2 separate regions of the Homo sapiens genome follow, and region 2 is linked to region 1. Evidence: fine-mapped expression QTL. A gene starts in region 1. The other region holds a variant in brackets. All regions are shown on one strand. Distances are between the middles of the regions.

Region 1 (11,911 bases):
ATAGAAAGAAAACTTTAATATGGAAAAAGATGTTTAATGTGGCATTATTTAAATCAGGAAAAATATGGGGGGTGGGAACCTTTACATGTGTATTAATGGAAAATAATCAAATATAATTTGATATATCTACAATGGTTTAAGTTGTCATTAAAATGTTGTGTGTGAAGACTAGACAATATAGGAAATGCTCAGTTAACTAAGAGAACAAAGAAAATACAGTATGCATAGTCATGTCACTGTTATGCTTAAATTTTACAGGAAAAATACTCTACAAGAAAAATATACCAAAATATTAAGAGTGATTGTTTCAAATATGATTCCAAAGGTAGTTTTTCCATCCTTTTATTTTTTGATGATTTCCAAATTTCCTCTAAATGTTATTGTATAATAGAAAATATATACTTATGAAAATATTTTGAATTTCAAACAGTTTCACAATTCTTTTATCTCAAAACTTGTTTTTAAATTCTCGTCACTCCATCTTTGCCCCCGTGTCTTAAAACCAACACTCTGCACCCTAGTCTCCCCCTGGTTCATTTGCTGTTTCAGAAAAAAGGTACTGGGCCCATTCTGGTCTCTGCCTGAGGGTTCTCATATGGAGCAGGAGGTGGTCTGAGTAGAAGGAGGTGATGAGGTGGCCCTAGTGGATGTGCTCTGACCATGGCTCATTCTAGTCATGCCGTGGCTTCCATAAAGTGTTTAATTATTGATGCTGATAGAGAATATAAATTCAAATATATTTTAGGTCAGTGGTAATCACTCATTGAGTAAAAATTAGATGAATAATTTCCAAAAGCAAAGAGGAAGAAAAAGCAAAGAAAATCTGAGTAATAGATAGATAATAATGATAGAAGAAAGAACTATGGCTGGGCATGATGGCTTATGCCTATAATCCCAACATTTTGGGAGGCCAAGGCAGGAGAATCACTCGGGCCCAGGAGTTTGAGACCAGCCTGGGCAACATAGTGAGACCCCATTGTACAAAAAAAAAAAAAAAAATCAGCTTGGTGTGGTGGCATGTGCCTGTGGTCCCAGCTACCTGGGAGGGAGAGGTGGGAGGATCACGTGAGCCCAGGTTGTGACTTCAGTGAGCCATGATTGTGCTATTGCACTCCAGAGCCTGGGTAACAGAGCAAGACCCTGTCTCAAAACAACAACACAACAACAACAACAACAACAACAAAAACCCAAAAAAAACCCAAAAAGGAACTATGTAGAAGAAAAATAATAACATACCACACAATGACAATTTTTCTTTTTGTAATAAATATAAATGCTTAAATCTCTCTAGGAAACGGCAAAGACATATTTTGGTCCAGAAACAAAATTAAATTTTACTCTGTTTATAGCAGCACGTGTCTACAACAAAATGAAAGGCCAAAAGACCAATTAAGACATAAGAAGCACATATACACAAAAAGTAAGGATACAAATATGGGTATGTGGCAAAGTAAAATAGAAGGCAAAAAGCTGTAAGTAGGACAAAATATGTTTTTTTCTACAGATAAAAGAAAAAATCGACAAGGAAGATATGACAATAATAAATACCTATAAACAGAATACCATAGCACTGAAATGTTTAGAACAAAAGTCCCAAATATAAGACGCAACAGACATAATCACAATTGTAGCAAGAGATTGTAGAGTAGAATATAGTACCTCTCTTTGACGAATAAAGTAGAAAAATATGTAATCCCAGCACTTTGGGAGGCCGAGGCGGGCGGATCACGAGGTCAGGAGATCGAGACCATCCTGGCTAACATGGTGAAACTCCGTCTCTACTAAAAATACAAAAAATTAGCTGGGCACGGTGGCGGGCGCCTGTAGTCCCAGCTACTCGGGAGGCTGAGGCAGGAGAATGGTGTGAACCCAGGAGGCAGAGCTTGCAGTGAACCGAGATAGCGCAACTGCACTCCAGCCTGGGCGAAAGAGCGAGACTCCATCTCAAAAAAAAAAAAAAAAAAAAAAAAAGAAAAATATTGGAACACAGAGCATTTGAACATGCTCATACCTGATTTATGAGATATATGATGGGATATTTTGAACATTAATAAGCATGCTTCCCTCCCCTTCTAACCCCTACCCAGAATTCTTCTGCCCCCCAACAATGCCCCCCAGATAGATATGAGTCACTTGCTACAGAACCAGACACAAGGAATGCAAATACTCATTAGACTCAAAAGCTGGCCTGGAGGTGAGTCAAAGGCCACAAGAAAAAGAGCATAGGCCAGGAGCAGTGGTTCACGCCTGTAATCCCAGCACTTTGGGAAGCTGAGGTGGGCTGATTGCCTCAGCTCCGGAAAACCCCGTCTCTACTAAAATACAAAAAAAAAATTAGCTGGGCATGGTGGTGCATGCCTGTAGTCTCAGCTACTTGGGAGGCTGAGGCAGGAGAATCACCTGAACCCAGGAGGTGGAGGTTGCAGTGAGCCAAGTTTGTGCCACCTCATTCCAGCCTGGGCGACAGAGCGAGACTCCATCTCCAAAAAAAAGAAAAGAAAAAAAGAAAAAGAGCTTAAGAGAACACTGAAACCTCTGCCAGAACATGGGCCATCTGGCAGAGTGCCAGAGACAACCACAGTGTCCCTCTTGTCATTGACTTGTGAAGACCACCAAATGCCCAAAAATCCTTCAGTTCAGAGGGATGTGTGTCAGTGCCTCAGGACACTTCCCAGTCCCCATCAATTTCATTCCATATGTAGACAAATCTGTCAAACAGTCCAGGACACTTGTATACACTTGTACCCCCCTTCCCTAAACAGAGGAGCTGTGGGCCCTTAGTGATTGAAGGGTGATGGTGACGTGAAGGGGAAAGCCTTGAGCTGGCCAAGGGGGCTCTAGCTAGCATGAGTTGGAAATCTTCCTCTGAGCTAGAAGCTGTGTAGAATACACACTCTTGTTACAGATGAACTAAAAAACTGTACATTAGAAACACAAAATGAACAGTATTTCAAACCTCTATGATATGTGTTTACAATGAAACATGACAGGCTATGTTTAAAAAAAACCTTTCAAGACATGTTATTTGACGATAGTATCACAAGTCTAGAATTTAACATAGAATAAATTTTAAAAAATCAAACCACCTAGAAAAGGTTTTTTTTTTTTTTTTTTTTTTTTTAAACAGAGTCTCACTCTGTCGCCCAGGCTAGAGGGCAGTGGCACCATCTTGGCTCACTGCAACCACCACCTCCTGAGTTCAAGTGATTCTCCTGCCTCTGCCTCCAGAGTAGCTGGGACTACAGGCATGCACCACCATGACCAGCTAATTTTTTTAATTTTTTTTATTTTTGAGACTGAGTCTCACTCTGTCGCCCAGGCTGGAGTGCAGTGGTGCGATCTTGGCGCACTGCAAGCTCCGCCTCCCAGGTTCATGCCATTCTCCTGCCTCAGCCTCCCGAGTAGCTGGGATTACAGGTGCCCGCCACCACGCCTGGCTAATTTTTTGTACTTTTTAGTAGAGATGGGGTTTCACCGTGTTAGCCAGGATGGTCTCGCTCTCCTGACCTCGTGATCTGCCTGCCTCGGCTTCCCAACGTGCTGGGATTATAGGCGTGAGCCACCATGCCCAGCCTAGAAAAGCTTTTTAAAAAATTATCCTGAATAACATTTGGATCAAAGAGGAACTCAAAACTGTAATGACAAGTTTTATTTAGAAAATAGGAGATCCATATCATTCATGAAAACAAGGTATGAAACCAAAGCCATACTCAGGAGGAAAATTTATAGTTTTATAAAAATAAATAAAAGACATGAGATTAAGGATACCCAAATACACTTTAATGGGCATTTGTTGTTGCTTATATATATTATTTTTATATATATTCTCTAATATATATTATATATTCTCTAACATGGTATATATTAAAGAATGTATATATTATATATATATAATATATGATATAATATATATATATATAAAATTTGGCTGCCTAACCTCTGAAGCTTCCTCCTATAGTAGGGAAATCTGCCATGGAGTGAATCCACCAATCAGATGCTGCCCTTGCTACTATGCAGCTGGAGTGACTGCCTGAAAGGGCAGCCTTCATTCTGGTAGCCATGGCCAGGGCTCAGTGGCAGAGCCAGCATATCCCAATCAAGCTGTTCCTGGACACCCTGTGGATCTCAGTGCTCAGATTCCTAATTCCTGCTCATCCCCTCCACCTTGTTCCCTACACCCCTCCTGTGAATCTCCAGGCTGCCTGACATCCTTCTCCAATACATATTTTCCAGCTTATGTTAGCTAGAGTCAGTTTCTATTGTTAAAACCCTCAAACTCTCACTAGTCTTCTGAACAAAAGTGAAGGAAGGAATGTGTAAGAATAATGAAAGAAAAATCAATGAGAGAGAAAAATCTGTAGCAATGATGAGTACCTTCAAAAATATTTTGAAAGACCAATAAAATCAGCAAACCTCCAATAAATCTATTCACTGAAAAAATTAAGACAAATCACAAAAACTTTTACAAAGGAGAAAATGTATATGAAAGATTCTGAAGTTTAAAAAGTATGATCTTCAACTCTATACTTGATTAATGAAGGAGATAAATTACCAAAATCAACTGAAGTGAGAAACTTGAATGTACTAACGACTGTGGAGGAAATGCCAATAAACTGTTTGAAAAAAAAGCACCCCCCTCCTCCCAAAGGGCACAGAGCCGGATTGGTCTAGGGGGAGGTACCATAGAACCGGTGCTATTTAAACCTCTCTGGAGCATGGAGAAAGAGGAAGCTGAGCAGCCCTGAATAGCCTAGGACAAGAGAGACCTGCCAATCCTGGACTCCAGCTGCAGCTGGCTCTCTGCCTTATGTAGTGGTTGGCCTGCGGTGAAGCCCACTGTTGAGAGGCATTTGAACTGTTGTATGGACAGGTCATCTTGCTACGCCATTCTGACCCAGCTGTCACCACCCTCACACTTTTTAGTTATCTATCAGTGGCTGGTGTCAGGCAGGTAAGCCCACAACACTCACCCAAGTCATGCTCATTAACCCTCTGACTGGCTGCCCTTATCCCACGATCTCCACTAAGTTCAAGCATTTTTTCCCCAGTATCAGAGGAGGAACACTGTTTATTCCAGTCTACATGCTTCAAGTAGAAGTGAGGAAACCAAGGCCCAGAGAGGTGTGTACTTACTTGCCCAGTCCTCACTAGGATGAAGTCAGGGTTAGGACTAGCCCCGACTGGGCGCTGGGAGCTAACAGCTAGGGGAGGAACTGCATGACTTTTGTCCTGGAGAAATGTTATGGCAGGTGGACACCAGGGCACAGGCATATACCCGAAGTGTCCAGGGCAGACAGGGACTGCTCGTCACCCCAGATGGGACCTGCTAAGGGCCCAAAAAGAGACTGAAGGTGGGAAATGTTTTTGTTTTTCAGTGTGAAGCGTTGCCAAACATATATTCTAGGTTTGGGAATCCTCGGGACCTTTGGAAGCCAGATTCAGCGAAGATGCTGTACCTTTTGGGGATAGCTCTAACACGAGGTTAACGCAATGCTCCATGTCCCTGGCTGGGCTTAGCTGTGAGTGCGTCGACCTCTGGACTCTGTGCAAATGGACACTCTGTAACTGACACAGCTGGTAGGGGTTACCGAGAGAGCTGGGTTCCTGGTCTGGTGGACTCCGCCGGATATGCAACGAGCTCTTTATGGCACCTTGGAGATGGTTGCTTTTAGTGCCGTTGACAGCGGGCTCAGAGCACCAAGTGAGCTAGCACCGTATTTATTAGTAAATTACTCCATAACTCTAGGGCTCCCAGAAGACCAAAATCATTTGAGCAGATTGCACCCAGAGCACCGCGTGGAGAGAGAAGAAAGCCCGCCACCCACAGACCGCTTCCTCCTACCACAGGTCCCCCATCGAGTTGCATTTGTTGTCCCTCCCTAGGCGCATTTCTGAGCCTTCCTTTCTTAAACATACACCGAGCGAAAATGCGCCGGAGGGAGGCGATGTTGCCTGTGAGCCAAAGCCGGTTCGGCACCAAGACAGAAGCAGAGAGAACTGATCTCTCTCCCGGTACCCATGACAATCTCAGAGCTAGATCTATATCGTCCCGCGCCCAGCAAGAAGCACTGTGTGACTGTACTCCCCCGACCCCCAGGACATCCCCACGCCCAGCTTCCCAGGCCGGTCTTCTGCGCGGCTCAAGTAGCCCAGGTCTCCACGCAACAATGAAGCGTGGGCGGCCCCAGCAGCTTCATTTGCATATCGCCGCGGCTTGGCCAATGGGCTGCGCAGGGGCTTTGGAACGCAGTGTTGCCATCGGCGTGCGCGCGTGTGTGCGAGTGTGACAGCGGCTGTGGCTGTGGCCGTGGCCGTGGGAGGCGGGCCCGGCGGAGCCCAGCCGCGGGGGGACCGGCCCGGGCTCCCGCTCCCCGAGCGCGTCGCGGCCGCGTGGCCCAGCCGAGCCTTGAGACCACCCCGCCCCTGCCGGTCGCAGTCGCGATGTCGGTGGCCGGGCTGAAGAAGCAGTTCCACAAAGCCAGCCAGGTAGGGAGGCGCAGAGGAGGGAAGGAGGGAGGGGGACGCGGAGGCTGCGGCCCCCCGAGGCTCCCGGGCCTTTGGGACTCCTGTTCCCTGAAGGGCCTCTCTCGGGGCTCAATTTCTTCCCGCCTAGGAGGGCGCGAGGGTGGGGTGAGGGGCCGCCTGCTCTCTCCTCGGCGTCTTGGCGCCTTCTCCTTCCCATTCCCTGGCCCCCGGCTCTGCCCTGGGCCGTTGTAAATCGGAGAGATTCTGCGGAGCGGAGGGCAGAGGTGGCGGCCGCGGGGACTCGGGAGGCGGAGACGGAGTGGGCGTGGGGGGGCCCCTACCCGCGCGAGGGGAGGACGACCACAGGGAGTACGATGCCGGCAGGGCCTCCCCCGAGTCTCCAGCCGTTTGGTTGGGAGAGCCTCGTGGGGGGCCCATCCTCCACCGGCCACCGGCGCCTCCAGAGATGCTGTGTATTTGGCGCTTGGCTGTGTCCCGCTGAGCTCCCCGCGCGCGCATCGAAATGGCCCCGTCTGGACTGTGCCCGGCTCCCCGGCTGGGGCTCTCTACCGCGGTCCTTCCCCTCCCCACCGTCTTCCCGGTGTCGGCCCGGGGCTGGGCATCACGCTTCTGCTCTTACAGAGCTGACAGCCTGCAGGGGAGACACGGAGACAGACACGTAAACAAACAGTGCTAGACACACCTCCACGCACAGAGGATGACAAATAACACAGTGGGGGCGTCAGGGAGAGCTTCCCGGAGGAGGAGACATGTCATTTGAGAATTAAGTATGAGGAAGAATTATGGCTGAGGGTGTGGGATGATAGGAGGAAAGCCGTTCTGAGCAGAGGAAACAGGAAAACAGGAGGGGAGACATGAAATTGATGTGTGTGTGTGTGTGTGTGTGTGTGTGTGTGTGTGTGTTGATGACAAGCAAATTTGTTTTTCAACATCAACATTGCAGGCTCTTCCAGCTATGGCAGAGCTCACGTTGTAAAACCTGTTCCCCACCAGCACCGCTGGGTCTGTTGCTTCTCACCACCTCTCCCCGCAACCCCAGCCCCCATTTTGCTAGAGCCAGGGTAGACAGATTTCATTCAACGTCCACATTTGTGGTGAGGTCTCATCCTGCTTCTCCCACAAATTGGCCCATAGAAAGCAACTGCAATTAGAAGATTCTCTTCTTCTAGCCCCAGTTCCAGGCTGAAAGGCACTGCTGTCCCCTCACTCACACTCTTTCCATATGGAAACTGGGTGATGCTGTTTCTAGCTGGGGGCACTGGGTGGACAGTGGTGCTATTCAAGGTGTTAAGGAGCCCTGGAGGAGAGGCTATTCAGGTGAGGGTGGAGATGATGGATTCACCACTGAACCCAGGGACTTTGAGGGGTCTTTGGGACATTCACATGTCACTGGCCTGGGTTGGGGTGCATATCCTGACCTGCAGCTCAGGGGGTGAGGCTGGTACTGGAGCTACAGATTTTTGGTGATTTCCAGCCTAAGCGGAGATTTAAAAATGTATGTGTAGACAAAAGTGAGAAAAGGCACAGCGAGTTAAAGGCAGACTCTAGACAGCACCCCCATTTAGGGACAATGTTTAGCCCAGTAATTGTTGAGCAGTGACCACTCAATAAATATTTATTGAATAGATGAAATTTTGGGGTGGCACAACACAGGAAAGAAAGAACTCGTAGATGACAGGAGAGAGAAGACCATCATGGAAGGGGGACATTTAAAGGCAGGAGCAATCAACAAGTGCTTCAGTGAGCTAGGTATTGTGGAGTGTCCTCAGCTGGTACAGCCAGGAGGCCGAGTGCTGCTGTGAGCAGAGCAGAGCAGAGCAGTGCCAGAGTAATCGCTGGCTGTACTTGTTACATTGGCTTCCTTAGCACTGGCAGGAAATGAACCTCCTCTTTTGAAAACTTTTCCTTTATTGGGTATGGACTTCACAGGGGCAAATCTCAAAGATAAGCAAATCTCAGAGATAACGTAAGCCCTTGGGTGATTTAAGTTGGTTTCTGACAGTAACCAGAATGAATGGTTGAAATCCTTGGAAGTTATTGGCACTGGAGAAATATTTTGCTAGTCATGGGTAGTTTGGTTTAACTACCTGTAATCAGTACATTAAAAATGAAATGAACAGAACGTCTTATTTAGTCTTTTTTTTTTTTTTTTTCGCATGAGCGGAAATAATTTATGACTTTACCTGAAAGGAGAGGCATCACAGATTCTCTCTGGGCTTCATAGCCATGTTTTGTGGTTAAAAGTACTCAGTAGATATGTTTTAATATGTTCTAGAAGTCTTTCTAAAAAATCTTGCAATGCAACAATTTGGTGGAGAAATCAGACCGGTTTAATATAATATGAGGGAGCTCAATAATAAAAAATGCCAGATGTTTTTCTCAGACAACATTTTAACAGCAGGTTTTAATTCATACAGAACTTACCTGGGGCAGGGGAAGGGAGCCCCAGATGATGTCAATGGCTAAAATAATTTCCAGGGATCTAGGTCTGGCTCAGCCACTGACCAGCTCTGTAACCTTGGGAACATAACTTAACCCATCTGGACCTTGGTTTCTATCTGTATGATGACTCAGGGAATTTAGAAGCTATGTTTCTGTTATAAAAATGATTGTGGCAATGGTTTCACAACTCTGTGAATATGCTGAAAACCACTGAATTGTACACTTTAAGAGAATTGTATGGTATGTGAAATATATCTCAATAAAGTGATACGAATATGTCTCTGTGTCTCTGGGTGTGTGTGTATGTATACATCTCAGTGCTGAAATTCTTAAGTAAGTTAAGCATTTCAGAGTAAGACAAAGATGATAAAGTGGACCTTTTACAGAGAAGGGATCCAGGACCATGGCAAACTGAGATAGTTTTCTGAAAGATAAGCGAGGTAAAATTAGCTATAACCCGGTTAACTGTTCCTTTTTTCCTGATACCTTCCCTATCTCTGGGAAAAAACCCCTACTTTACAGAGAATGAAGACTCGTAAACCCTGGGGATTATGCATCATTTTGGCAGCACATGGAGACCAACAGGAAAGAGGAAGAAATATGCTAAAATGAGAAGAATATAAGTTAACAAAAAAATTTAATTAATTCTAAGTTTCAGCGTTTGAGACTAGAACCCAAATTTTTCTTTTTTTTTTTTTTTCTAATATGCATTATCCTTTATTAAAATGGGATATTTTTCTTTTTTTTTTTTTTTAAGGTTATAGATTTTCTTTTTTTTTTTTAATTTTTTTTTTTCTATTATACTCTAAGTTTTAGGGTACATGTGCACATTGTGCAGGTTAGTTACATATGTATACATGTGCCATGCTGGTGCGCTGCACCCACTAAAGTGTCATCTAGCATTAGGTATATCTCCCAATGCTATCCCTCCCCCCTCCCCCGACCCCACCACAGTCTCCAGAGTGTGTTATTCCCCTTCCTGTGTCCATGTGATCTCATTGTTCAATTCCCACCTATGAGTGAGAATATGCGGTGTTTGGTTTTTTGTTCTTGCGATAGTTTACTGAGAATGATGATTTCCAATTTCATCCATGTCCCTACAAAGGACATGAACTCATCATTTTTTATGGCTGCATAGTATTCCATGGTGTATATGTGCCACATTTTCTTAATCCAGTCTATCATTGTTGGACATTTGGGTTGGTTCCAAGTCTTTGCTATTGTGAATAGTGCCGCAATAAACATACGTGTGCATGTGTCTTTATAGCAGCATGATTTATAGTCCTTTGGGTATATACCCAGTAATGGGATGGCTGGGTCAAATGGTATTTCTAGTTCTAGATCCCTGAGGAATCGCCACACTGACTTCCACAATGGTTGAACTAGTTTACAGTCCCACCAACAGTGTAAAAGTGTTCCTATTTCTCCACATCCTCTCCAGCACCTGTTGTTTCCTGACTTTTTAATGATTGCCATTCTAACTGGTGTGAGATGATATCTCATAGTGGTTTTGATTTGCATTTCTCTGATGGCCAGTGATGGTGAGCATTTCTTCATGTGTTTTTTGGCTGCATAAATGTCTTCTTTTGAGAAGTGTCTGTTCATGTCCTTCGCCCACTTTTTGATGGGGTTCTTTGTTTTTTTCTTGTAAATTTGTTTGAGTTCATTGTAGATTCTGGATATTAGCCCTTTGTCAGATGAGTAGGTTGCGAAAATTTTCTCCCATGTTGTAGGTTGCCTGTTCACTCTGATGGTAGTTTCTTTTGCTGTGCAGAAGCTCTTGAGTTTAATTAGATCCCATTTGTCAATTTTGGCTTTTGTTGCCATTGCTTTTGGTGTTTTGGACATGAAGTCCTTGCCCACGCCTATGTCCTGAATGGTAATGCCTAGATTTTCTTCTAGGGTTTTTATGGTTTTAGGTCTAACGTTTAAATCTTTAATCCATCTTGAATTGATTTTTGTATAAGGTGTAAGGAAGGGATCCAGTTTCAGCTTTCTACATATGGCTAGCCAGTTTTCCCAGCACCATTTATTAAATAGGGAATCCTTTCCCCATTGCTTGTTTTTCTCAGGTTTGTCAAAGATCAGATAGTTGTAGATATGCGGCATTATTTCTGAGGGCTCTGTTCTGTTCCATTGATCTATATCTCTGTTTTGGTACCAGTACCATGCTGTTTTGGTTACTGTAGCCTTGTAGTATAGTTTGAAGTCAGGTAGTGTGATGCCTCCAGCTTTGTTCTTTTGGCTTAGGATTGACTTGGCGATGCGGGCTCTTTTTTGGTTCCATATGAACTTTAAAGTAGTTTTTTCCAATTCTGTGAAGAAAGTCATTGGTAGCTTGATGGGGATGGCATTGAATCTGTAAATTACCTTGGGCAGTATGGCCATTTTCACGATATTGATTCTTGCTACCCATGAGCATGGAATGTTCTTCCATTTGTTTGTGTCCTCTTTTATTTCCTTGAGCAGTGGTTTGTAGTTCTCCTTGAAGAGGTCCTTCACATCCCTTGTAAGTTGGATTCCTAGGTATTTTATTCTCTTTGAAGCAATTGTGAATGGGAGTTCACTCATGATTTGGCTCTCTGTTTGTCTGTTGTTGGTGTATAAGAATGCTTGTGATTTTTGTACATTGATTTTGTATCCTGAGACTTTGCTGAAGTTGCTTATCAGCTTAAGGAGATTTTGGGCTGAGACGATGGGGTTTTCTAGATAAACAATCATGTCGTTTGCAAACAGGGACAATTTGACTTCCTCTTTTCCTAATTGAATACCCTTTATTTCCTTCTCCTGCCTGATTGCCCTGGCCAGAACTTCCAACACTATGTTGAATAGGAGCGGTGAGAGAGGGCATCCCTGTCTTTTGCCAGTTTTCAAAGGGAATGCTTCCAGTTTTTGCCCATTCAGTATGATATTGGCTGTGGGTTTGTCATAGATAGCTCTTATTATTTTGAAATACGTCCCATCAATACCTAATTTATTGAGA
Region 2 (11,911 bases), 130 kb after region 1:
CAAGCCTCCCACGTGGTTTGTGCTCACACATTATTTTATTTTTTTAATTTTAATTTTTGTGGGTACGTAGTAGGTGTATATGTTGGTGGGGTACAGGAGATGTTTTTGCAAATTATTTTTGAATGGTTGATTCTAGAGAAGTGACAGTCTGGGTTCTGGGGATGCCAAAACATCTCCCCCAAATGCACAGTTGTAAAACCAAATGCCTCCTTTGCTGACATATAGCAAGTTTTATTTCTTCTTGTGCTGTCATCATGGAGGAAGGTCATATGAAAAGTCAGCATTGCTCCTCCACCTGGCCAACCACAGACACATATGTGGTCCTGAGTAGTAAGTGGGTGAAATGTGTAAAACACACTTATTCTGAAATGTTGCAGTTCTCTATGCAACAAAATAGTTTTCTAAATGCCATCTTGTTACTCAGCTGCTGTTTGATACAGAACTGTAAATCTAAACTTAAATTATGTGGATGATGGAAAGTTAAGAGTCCAAGGTTTAGGAAGCCTTTCATAGTCTCAGCTATGCTCTGTGTCGCTCAGAAATCAGGGGTCAGGGGCCTGTTCATTTGACATACGGCTGACTTTCAGGTGTTCATGTAGAGGTACAGAGGGATTAGGGACCAGCCCAAAGTCACAGAGCAAAGAGAGAGATGTTTCTGACTCTCTGGGTCTTGTGTGCTCTTTTCACTGAGTCATGGAAGTTAGAAGCAGTGCTTCCTGCTAAAATGAATAGTGCGAGCTATCCCCATGCTTCAGTGGGATGATCAGTTTCTACATACACTTTCGATGCCTGGTATCTGATTTCCGAGGATTATAGCCATAAACTCTCCAGGGACCCCTCCCTTGTCCTGTATAGCTATCCCACTCAGCACTGTTTCTGACACGGGGTCTCTCTGCTTGGACACAAACTGTGATGGGAAACCTACTGCTACGCAAGGCAGCCTGTTCCATGAGTGGACAGTTCTAACTGTTATATTTTGTTAAAGCGGTTATAATATTGTTTAGAAATTTTACTGTTTCAGAGGTTGTCTGTGAATCTCTCTCCTTTGCATTCATTAACAGCGTTTTACGCAACTTATTTCTTGATTGTTTGGGAACTTTACGGAGATCCGTTAATATTCTAAGGGATTGTAGAAGTTTGTGATTTTATAGTCTACTACTTAGTCAGGAGTTGACAATAGTACCAAAAGAAATGTTCCTACTGTGTTTTGTTTGGTTAACCTGGTTAGAAATTATCTGGACATTAAGAAGGCTGAAGTGAGGGATCGTATAAAGAACGTTGGAAAATAATATCTGAGCATGGCTACTGCATCATTACATTCCATAAAGACACTCATTCATTCTATCACCGATCTGTCCATTCATTCATTCATTCCACAAATATTCCTGGAGCACCTGAAGTGAGGGGAGCCTCCATCAGGTGCTGAGGTGCTCCCAACAGCAGTGTAAGGTGGGTTCCTGCCCTCTGGAATCTAGGCCGAGAAAAAGCAATGACCATTTTAATAGAAATAATTTTTTGTGCCAGGTTTTGAATGTAGCACCTCTCTGAGGGACTCCATTCTCTTTTTTTAGCATCACCTGAAAAAGCTGGAAGGCCGCCGCCTGGATTACGATTATAAAAAGAAACGAGTAGGTAAGATACCAGACGAAGAAGTCAGACAAGCGGTAGAAAAATTTGAAGAGTCAAAGGAGTTGGCTGAAAGAAGCATGTTTAACTTTTTAGAAAATGATGTAAGTATTTAAACCAAATAGGAGATTTTAATGTAAATGAATGAAACATTGAATATATGACTATGATCGGCATGTTGAAAAACTCTAAAGCAGGAGTGTCCAATCTTTTGGCTTCCCTGGGCCACACATAAAATACACTAATACTAATAATAGCTGATGAGCTTAAAAAAAAAATCATAATTTTTTTTTTTTTTGAGACGCTGTCTCGCTCTGTCACCAGGCTGGAGTGCAGTGTCTCGGCTCACTACAACCTCCGTCTCCTTGGTTCAAGTGATTCTCATGCCTCAGCCTTCTGAGTAGCTAGGATTACAGCCACGCACCACCACACTCGGCTAATTTTTGTATTTTTAGTAGAGATAGGGTTTCACCATGTTGGCCAGGAGGGTCTCGATCTCCTGATCTCATGATCTGCCTGCCTGGGCCTCTCAAAGTGCTGGGATTAAAGGTGTGAGCCACCACCCCCGTCCAATCTCATAATGTTTTAAGAAAGTTTATGAGTTTGTGTTGGGCCACATTCAGAGCCATCCTGGGCCACATGTGGCTTGTGGGCCACAGGTTGGACAAACTTGCTCTAAAGCCTTAGTTGTTATGCAAGTTTCTAGAATTTTCTCCTATCTCCTGCCTGAGAGATTGATTGCTTCAGACATCCAGCAAGCCCTGACTCACATCTTTTTTTGGAGACAGGGTCTCACTCTGTTGCCCAGGCTGGAGTGCAGTGGCACGATTGTGACTCACTGCAGCCTCGACCTCCCAGGCTCAAGCGATCTTCCCACCTCAGCCTCCTGGATAGCTGGGATCACAGGCATGCCACCAAACCCTGATAATTTTTTGTCAAGATGGGAGTTTCGCCATGTTGCCCAGGCTGATCATGAACCCTTGGGCTCAAGCCACCTACCCGACTCAGCCTCCCAAAGTGCTGGGATTACAGGTGTGAGCCACCACGCCAGCCCCTGACTCAATATCTTAAATCTTGAGGAGTCCTGTTTATCCCAGGATTGCTTCAGAGGTTGTCTCTGAAGATTGCTAAGTAGACTGGCTTTTGTATGTGAGGCCATAGGATTTATGGTTTCACAGGAGAATGAAAAGTCGAGGTCATGTAGTAATTTGCCATTTTGCTGAGACTGAAAAGTACTTGGCAAGGCAGATGGTTAAGGGAGAACAGCTCTCTTATCTGGGGGGCGGACAGCCGCTGTCATCCCCCAGCTCTCTGGTGCCTTTACCTGTCATAGCCCACATTGAGGACACAAAAGCATGACCCAAATTTTTCAGCTGTTCCATAGTGGTGCTTGTGGGCTCGGGAATTGTGAAGGTCTCGGATCTTATCCCTCAGAAGTGCCAATCTTCTATTGTACTGTGGTTCCTGCCATTTGCTTTGATTTGATTTGTCCAAGTAAAGTCAAATGAAATGGAATTAAGGAGGACGGTGACTCCTGACCAGGCAACACGCAGCTGGGGGTGGCCTCCCTGCTCGGCCTTGGGTTTAAGGGGCCATTGGCACTTTGACTGCCTGAGTGGAAGAGGTGTCAGCCACCTGCCTCCCTCCGGAGCCCCTGCCCTCAGCCTGGCTTCAGCGATGCCAGGAGCTGTCTCAGCCCCAGCATTAGTATGGGACCTAATTGTTAAGTTTTTAAACCTGTGGGAACAAGTCAGGAGGTTTATTTATCCTCAAGACCATGTCGTCCTTATAACAGTTTATTTAAAGGTACACTGAGGTCTTACATCCTTTGAGTCAAGTCAAAATGCATTGAGCACCCTTTATTTACCATGGTGATGTATGGAGGAATTATGTCCAATACTAACAAGACATTCATCCTGGAGAATTTATTCTCCCAACTGGAAATGCCAATTTGAAATTTCCCATGCCCATTAAACCACTGAGGCCTGAAAAGTACACTCTACTGTGTTTCTTCTTTTAATTTTTTTTTTTTTTTACATTTTTTTTGGGAAATAGGAGGAGGTGTGACAGTTTGGTATCTCTGTTTTTCTTTAAATGTATAAATTTCCTCTTGAAATTGTCCCCAAGCAACAGCGATTTTGTTTTGTTTCAGATTGCCGTATTGTTTTGAAGTCTTTAGAAAATGTATTTGAAGTGTGACATGTATCAGATACTCCTTGTTGGGCCATATGGAATGTTGCCCTGCTGGCTCCAGGCCCATTCATGGCTTAAACTCTGAGATTGTGTCTTGTGTGTCAGATGCGCCGTCTGACCCATTTGTTCCATTCACTGCCTTCATGCGGGAACCACAATGATGGGTTTTTGCGAAGTGCTCCATGAGGGAAGCCTGTCTGAGCCACGCCGGCCTTAGCAGTTGACCCAAGAGACCTCAGTTTTCCCCCTCAGTATCAGTCAAAAGTCAAAAAGGATCCCTTCATTATAAAAGCTCAATCATTTGTCCATGTTTTGACAGTAACACGTATTCTGCCTGTCACAAATGGGTTAAGTCCTCCCACCCTGCCCCAGCAGAAGTAAGAGCTGGTTCCTAGCCCAAGCTCCGCAGGGGCTCTGGTGCTGGCCTTGCTCCGGCCTGGTTGCAGTGTTTCCTCCAAGGCTTCCTGTGGGAAATTGACCTGCAGGTGAGTGGAGGTTTCCCCTGTTCAGCTCTGGGGAGTCAGGGCTGCTCCCTCAGCCTGGATCCTGGGGTCTTCACCTTCACAAGGAGGGGTTGTCTGGCTTCTACTTCTGCCATTGAGGTGGGAGGAGACCAACGTTATGAAACGGAGATGGGCCGCCCAGGCTGCC[C/T]GGGAACTAGGCTCTTCCCTCCTTCCTGCTTCCTGCTTCCTGCCATCTGTAGCTGCAATGGCTGCTAGGTGTGCTCTGGCTGCTGCTTCTTGCGGTAATGGTGGTGATCGTGATAATGATAAAGACAGTGGTGATAATGATGATGACAATGACAAGAGCTACCATTCACTGACACCCCATGATAAAGAGGCTAAGGGGGTGCTGTTGATGGTCCCTGTCATGGTGCATGTGCGTTTACCTTTTCTCCTACCCAGGTTTATAGCTGAGGAGACTCAGAGATGATTGTTTAGGCTTCAGAAGCCCATCTTACTCTCTTCTTGGGGTCAACAGCAGTTAGATCAGAGGGAATCACCTGATCCTTTTCCATGTCAGTGTGTCTGTGCCATAGCCAGGTGGTCTGACCATCCTCTCCTGTTGACCAGACAAGCTAGAGAAAAATCTCCTGCTGGTCACTCCTTGGACCTGACATGCCAATGCCGATACTGCCTGGTGCTTGGGGATAAACAGAGAATGTGACTAGTTGGGAGAAAGACAAAATGCCAATACATGGTTGATGGGGCATACATTGAACCCTTGGCCCTGTGTTTGGCCCATCTCCAACAACCAGGCCAGAGCTGGTGGCCTTGTAGCCCATGGGACTCTGGTTTCCTGCTCCCTGTGAGTCACAACCCGCACGTCCAACCTTGGTCACTCAACCTCTTGTTGCCATGTTGCTTCCTTTCCTGGTGGGGAAGTCCTGCATGAGGAGCTGTGCTTCGGGATGGCTGGGGAGGGCTGGATTTCCTGGCAGAAACTAAAGATGGCTGGGACCTGTTCTAATCGCCATGTCAAACACAGTGGGTCTTTGGGTGCTGCTGCCTGATGGATTGGACGGTGTTTCTACCTGATCTGGTACCTGCTGGAGACAAGGTGCACAAACTGTCAAATGAGTGGCTGCAAGGGAAGCCTGGTGGCAGGCAGCAGAGGCCCTGACACTTCCTCCAGACACAAGTGGGACATGCTTCTGTTACTGTGGTGGGAAGTTTGGGGATGTCAGTCACAGCCATTCACCCTTTGGGTTCTGACCAATGGAGGAAGTGACAAAAAAGCCGGATTGGAATCAAGGGACATCTCTTTAACTGATGAGAATGCTTGAAAATTGTAAAATACAGACCTCCTGGTCAACTGTGCTGAAGGACATGGCCTGGGCCTAAAGTCCTGTTGGCACTTTCCCCTCCTTGCACCTTCGGTGGATGACAGCCAGCTCTAGGGGAGAGCCCGCCTGTCTTACCACCCAGATACAGCCTGAGACGCTGAAGCTGGGTGAGTGGGAGCCTTGCTGGCCCCAACCCTGCAGAGCCAGTGACTGAGGCAGAGCAACCCATCCTACTAACTAGGGAGCACCCCCAACCTCATCCACAAGAGGAGGAAGAGGAGGGCCTGGCGAGAGGACTTAGAAGCATTCGCTCCAAAGAGAAAGTGAATAAGCAGAGAAGCAAATGAAGGGAAATCCTCTGAGATGGGTGTGCTTGGTGCTCTTGTGCTACCTGTCCATCTCTGTTTGGCACTGACAATTCAAAGACCAAAATCTCACCCTGGGGGAAGAGCTGGTGCCTTCTCCAGCCCTCATGTCTCATCATCCTGGCTAAGACGCAATAAAAGCTTCACCGGGGAATGCCTCAAAAGAAACTGTTTGCCAAAACTCTGACTGATGTGAGGAGAACCCTGACTGGAGTTAACAGACTTGGTCTTTCCTGGGTCTCCAGATGTAGTACTTCCTAGGGTTTTCTGGCCAACAGGCCATTTGCAGGGATTTCCAGGGTGTGGTTGTTCACTGTCCTCACCTCTGCATTCTCCCAACTGAGAAACAAACCCAGGGAGCCACATGAGATCACATGCCAGCCCCTTGCTCAGAGAGCAGGGCTCTCTAGAAAGCCATGTTGGAAGGGGCAGCTTGGGCCTGGGCCCACAGTAGAAGTCCAGTGAGCTATTCCTGGCCTGAAGTCTAGACCTTGGAGCCCCTGCAGAGAGAGCGGGTGCAGAGACCACAAAGCCAGATGACACACGATCTTGTGGCCACTTCACAAACCCACTTTCTTGAGAAATCCGGAGCCCAGAGCCAGGCCCCTACTGCCTTTCCTTGCAGTGTCTAGGTACCCTGGTTATTAGGGCCAAGTGGGTGCCACTCCCGTAATCTCACCAGTTAGATGAATCACCAAAGGAAGGGGAGGTAGAGAGACATGACATGCTAACTCTAACATTCCTAAGCAGAAGTTTTATCTATTTTCTCATCTATTTTTGGCAGAACTGGGAATGGGAGAATGAAGAAGAGTCTCCTTCGGCCCCACACTGTAGCCTTTGGTTGTCTTGTGAATGGGAGCTGGATTAGAGACATTGAGCATCTCTTCACATCTTGCCTGAGGCTGAGCAGTGTCGTTATTCTATAGGCAGTGATGCAAGCCAGGAGGTGTTTTGGTTCTCCAACTTTCCAGGGATCCAAGAGGGGCAGTCCCATGACTGATTTCTCACCAGGCCAAGTTGGGCTTGGCAGGGTCCTGAGAAGTAACCAGGGCAGCCCTCCTCTTGGAGGAAAGTGTGGGAAAGTCAGCAGACTGGTTACCAGCCTTCATTGCCGTATCTTGGGAACACTATATCACCCATAGGCTTGTTAACACACTGTCACCTCTTCTGTCTTTGCAGAGAAGTTTATTCCTCATTATTCCTCACAACTTACTAGTAGCAAATGTAGGTCTTTGACATTAGCAGAAATCAGAGATATTCCATAGAAGATGCCTATTTCAGTCCAGTGAGTCCAGGCACCTGCAGTACTGGCTGTCTTGGTATACATTCACCAGCTACGGGATCCTCCTTCCATTCATGGGTTCCCAAGACCAGTGGAATTACTAGATTCCAGATTCCTGAGGTCTTTCCATTGGTCTAGAGTAGCATTTTCCAAAATCCATTCCATGGGATGTTAGTGTGTTTTGCATTAATAATGTCTCTGTGGTCACATAAGTTTGGGAAACCCTGGGTTAAATAAAACTAAACAGTTTCTTTATCACAAGACTTTTCAGAGTCTTTATTTGACAGTATGAAAGATTAATCTCTAAGCGGTTCCTAACAGAAAATACAGTTGGCAGTTTACCAAACTTATTTGACCGCAGAATTCCGTCACATTATTATATTATTACTAATGTTTCAGGACTGTAATGTGTGGAATAAGATGCATTAGGAAGTATTGAACTTGTAGAAAGCATACCCAGCAAGGCGTGAGATACCTGAATTCTGTTTCTGATTTTGTTTCTGCTAAGCCTCTGGGAAAATCATTTCACCTGACTGGTATCAGGCAAATTAACAACTGCATTTGAGAAATTCTTTAGAAGGATAAAGTGGAGAATAAAAGTGTAAGGGATTATTATCCATGTTATTAATTTAATTGCCTTACTCAAACTTTCTCAGAAACTCTGAATAAAGGCTTTTGCCCCATTGGAAAAGTCATCTGTTTATGACCAGACTGCAAAATACATGAGAAATTTTCCACAGCTTCTCTGAGGAATCCAAAAAGAGTAGAGGTCTTTGATATGATAGAGCAAGAAATTACTGGTATTATTACACTGTAAATTGAAGGTGACCTCTATGGGAAATGTGCCTTTTCAGTTGTGAAAGAGAATGGCTTGTCGTCTTTTGAAGATGTACACTTCTTTATTCCTGCATGCCAAACACACTTGCAGACCCCAGGCGTCTGGACAGGCATCAGCTACTCACATCACAGTTCTCTCTCTGTCCTCGCCATGGGCTTCAGGGTGTGCTACTCTCTGCTTACTCACCCGGCTGCTCACCAAGTCCCCTGGTAAGGGATTGCTAAAGGGTCAGAGGAGGAGGGTTCCCAGCCCTGCTCCTTCTAGGCACCCCAGTTTCCATAGTCCTCTTGCAGAGTTGGCCTAAGACAGCCTTGGTTACAGTATGCAGTCCTTTGAGCCATTCTTCCTTTGGGTACAGCCTAAGCCTTTTGCAGTTGGCTCACAAGGCCAGGCCAATGGCTCAGATCTTATGCAAGTGTCCCTGGGGTTTCCATAACTCCTAGAAACTTCTAGTATCCTTAGTCCATTGTAGTTGGGGACATCTATTCTCTGTTTCCATCCCCAGGACTAAGATACTCCCAACGGCCATATATGCTGCTAATCATCCATTGGTTTCCAGCTATAGAGAGGTTTGGAATGAAATGCATCCACAGGTGACACACGTGTGTCACTTGTGGATTGTTTATTGTGTATAGTCTGCCATGGGAGATAAATTGAGTTAATTCCTGTTTTGGGGTTATCCCTCAGAAGAGAGTGAGGAGCCCTGGGATACAGCCAAACCAACAATGAAGTCCCCAGGCCCAGCCACGATGGGCCCATTACCCCCTGAGCTTGGTTCTTATGCGTCTCCAGGCAACAACTCCCATCACCATGAATGGGGGTCCCTGGGCAGCACTAATCTCATTGTTAGGTTTTTGCATAGTTTGAGGATGGGCTAAAGCAGCTCTGTATCAGTTTCCTATTGGGGCCATAACAAATGACCACAAACTGTAGCTTAAAGCAACACACATTTATTGTCTTCCAGCCTAGAGTCCTAAAATCAAGGTGTGGGTAGGGCCATGTTTGTTCTGGAGGCTCTTGAGGAAGAAGCTGCTTCTTTGCCTTTTCCAGCTTCTACAGGCCACCTGCATTTCTTGGCTCATTCTTCGCTTCCTCCCTCTTCACAGCCAGCGGCACAGCATCTTCACGTATCTCATTCTGACCTCTGCTTCCATTGTCATATCTTCTCTGACCTTGGCACTCCTGTCTCCCCCTTAAAGGACCTCGTGATTACATTGAGCCATTCAGACGTTCCAAAATAATCTCTTCATGTTAAGATCCTTAACTCAATCATAACCGCAAAGTCCCTTTTGCTATGTAAAGTAACATATTTGCAGGTTTGGGGAATTAATATTTGGACATCTTTGCAGGTTCCATGATTCTGTCTACCTCAGGCCCCCTCTGGTTTTATGGTTCTGTGTGTCTCCCAAGTTGCTTCTTCACAGCCCTCACTTCACACATTTGTCAACCACCGAGGCCTGTGCCTCCTTGACCTCTAACCTACATGGAAGTCAGCTTGCATTATGAGTTTCTCACTTCAAACATCAGCTGAGTGTGAGCCCATCTGTAGGAGCTAGAGTGCTTCACTTTCAGAAAAGGGAGTGGATTCTCTGGAAATCCAGTTCCTTGGCGTATATCACGTGAACATTTTCATGGGTGAGGTCACACTTTGCTCTCAAGATGGCACCAGCACAGTGTCAGCCCAGGTCTCAACCCGGAAGTGGAATTAAACCTTTCTTCCCACCCCAGGTGACTTTCTCTGATTCAACAGATGGACTGCTGAAATTCCAACAATGGAAGAAATGTTTTACCTTTTGGTCAGGTTTTGGCTCTTGCTAAGCCTGAGTTTGTTGCTTTATCTTGGTTCTGCCTGTCTAGGTATTTATTTCTAATCGTGGTTCAGGAAGCTGAATGTACCTGTGTTGGTCCCCATGGTCCCCAGCACACAGCTCAATGCTCATGACCTGGGGGACAGCTGGAAGCTTCAATTTTCTGAAATCAAGAGGAAAATAATCTATCGTAGCACACCTGGTCTTTACTGTCAACAAGAGACTTACAGCCTAGTAGCCAGCCCTTCAGGACTTGTACTGAGCACCTGCTAGGTGCAAGCATTGGGCAGTGCTGCCATTGTTTCCCAAGGTTTAAGGGTTTTCAGGATTCATTTCCTTCCCAAAGTCAGCCACCCAATGAGCAGTTACGAATGCATCTCTAGATTACATCACCTTGTGTTTTAGCCACGACAGGGAGGATAGCTGGTAATCCCCTTGCCCCCTTCCTGTTCCCCAACCCCAAATATGTTTCAAGAAATATTAATTTAGCTATCTTTCACTATTTCTTTAAAAATTATAAAATGCAAGCATTTTTTAAAGTGGGTAATAAGACAGGGCAAATAAATTTTACTAAAGGCAGAGAGGCATAGCATAGATTTTGCCAAGCACACCACTCTAGCACTGTAAGGAAGAAAAATTGTTTCTGTAACAAATTCTACTACGATCGTGCTAGGCCATGGCCCTGGACTTATTTAAAAGTACGTGTAAAAGCCAAAGAGATGAAATTTAAGAAATCCTTAGGATTTAGTAGGGGCCAGGCTGTCTTTGTTTTGTTTATTGGGTTTTTGGAAATTTAAGGCTAGGCTTGTTGCTTTTCCAGCCACAGAGCATGGTAAAGTAAATGAAACCCGACAGGATTTCATTGTTCGGATGCTGATCACAGCTTGGCACACATGGAATTCAATGTGTCTCTTACATGCATATTGAGCCCGTGTTTAAAATAGTATAAGTGAGTAAGAAAAATTTAAGTACAGGCAACTAAAGAATGATTTGCAACTACAAATGAAAGTAGCTTGGATCTTTGAAGGCTAAGTCCATGGTTGGTTAGGCAGGGTGAGATTGCATAAATGAATCAGCAGGCAGACTTTGCCCTAAAGCTGAGTAGAAAATGAAGTATGGAAATGATGCATAGGCTTTGGGGAAGCCTGGGAAGTGTAGGATTGATTTTGATTTGTGTCTTTGTCCAGCTCTAGAGTTGATTGGATTCTTGCTGGGGGAGGCCCATCACCTCAACCCTCTGGAGCTTGCCTCTGGGGCTTTCAGAAATAAGCTTAATTAATCTCTTTCCTGTAGCAGCCCCTCAGACACGTGGGGGAGCAGGAAAGCTCTCAGGCCTTCCTTAGATTGCTTTTCCTCAAATTATACAGCCCCATATCATCCAGGTTTTTCCTTATGAGACACAGCTCTAAAAAATTCATTGTAAGTTAGTCATTAATTTCATGAATGTCTTGATTTGTGGGAAACAGAGATGCCAGTGTCTTTATAGTTCATTCCCTTTAGCTCTATGTTTCAGGGAAAATATGTTGAGTGGATAGCAACAAAACGCATAGAGGGGACAGGGAAATCTTTGCCCCAGTTCACATGTTGCTCCCTGGCCCCCTTTCTTATCTGTTTCATTTACAGTTCTTAACTGTTTAATGTACTTAATGTCTTGATTTGGCTTAGCTAGAAAGTGCGTGTTGAGACACTTGACAAAGTAGGCAGTTCTTTTGCTAAATGTTGGCTTCGTTTGTAACTGGAAGAGCTTTATCTCTCTGTTTTCAGATCCATGAGCTTTATAGCATAGAAAATCTGCTGAGAAAAATCATCATCTAATTGGAAAAACAGGCATTTTATTGAGTTAAATCAAATTCATAATCACAAATAAATTTGAACATGTTTTTCCAGCATTTATAGCTCCATACCATGACCTGTATGATTATTATACAGAGCTCCTACATGAAATTAAATGAAATGGACCAAGGCAGACACTGGTCTTCCCTGCAAAGCTAGGTCTTTGCTGCTGGTCTCCTC

Which allele goes with the higher level. Alleles are on the strand shown, and positions count from the first base shown. SD is a standard deviation of normalised expression in the study named.
In carriers of allele C in region 2, the expression in spinal cord of the gene that starts at base 6,249 in region 1 tends to be higher than with T alone (moderate effect, 0.52 SD a copy in GTEx).

The links.
Region 2: its variant is fine-mapped to the expression of SH3GL3 in spinal cord (GTEx, PIP 0.99).

Annotation. Positions count from the first base shown.
Region 1 is chr15:83,441,093-83,453,003 of GRCh38, forward strand. SH3GL3 (SH3 domain containing GRB2 like 3, endophilin A3) reads left to right here and starts at 6,249. Exons shown (of 9, transcript NM_003027.5): 1 at 6,249-6,486. The coding sequence starts at 6,442. RefSeq lists an enhancer at 5,945-6,104.
Region 2 is chr15:83,575,012-83,586,922 of GRCh38, forward strand. SH3GL3 (SH3 domain containing GRB2 like 3, endophilin A3) reads left to right here. Exons shown (of 9, transcript NM_003027.5): 6 at 1,572-1,730. Among named protein-coding and RNA genes, the nearest start is that of ADAMTSL3, 73 kb to the right of the region's middle. The variant C/T (reference allele first, on the strand shown) is at 4,471.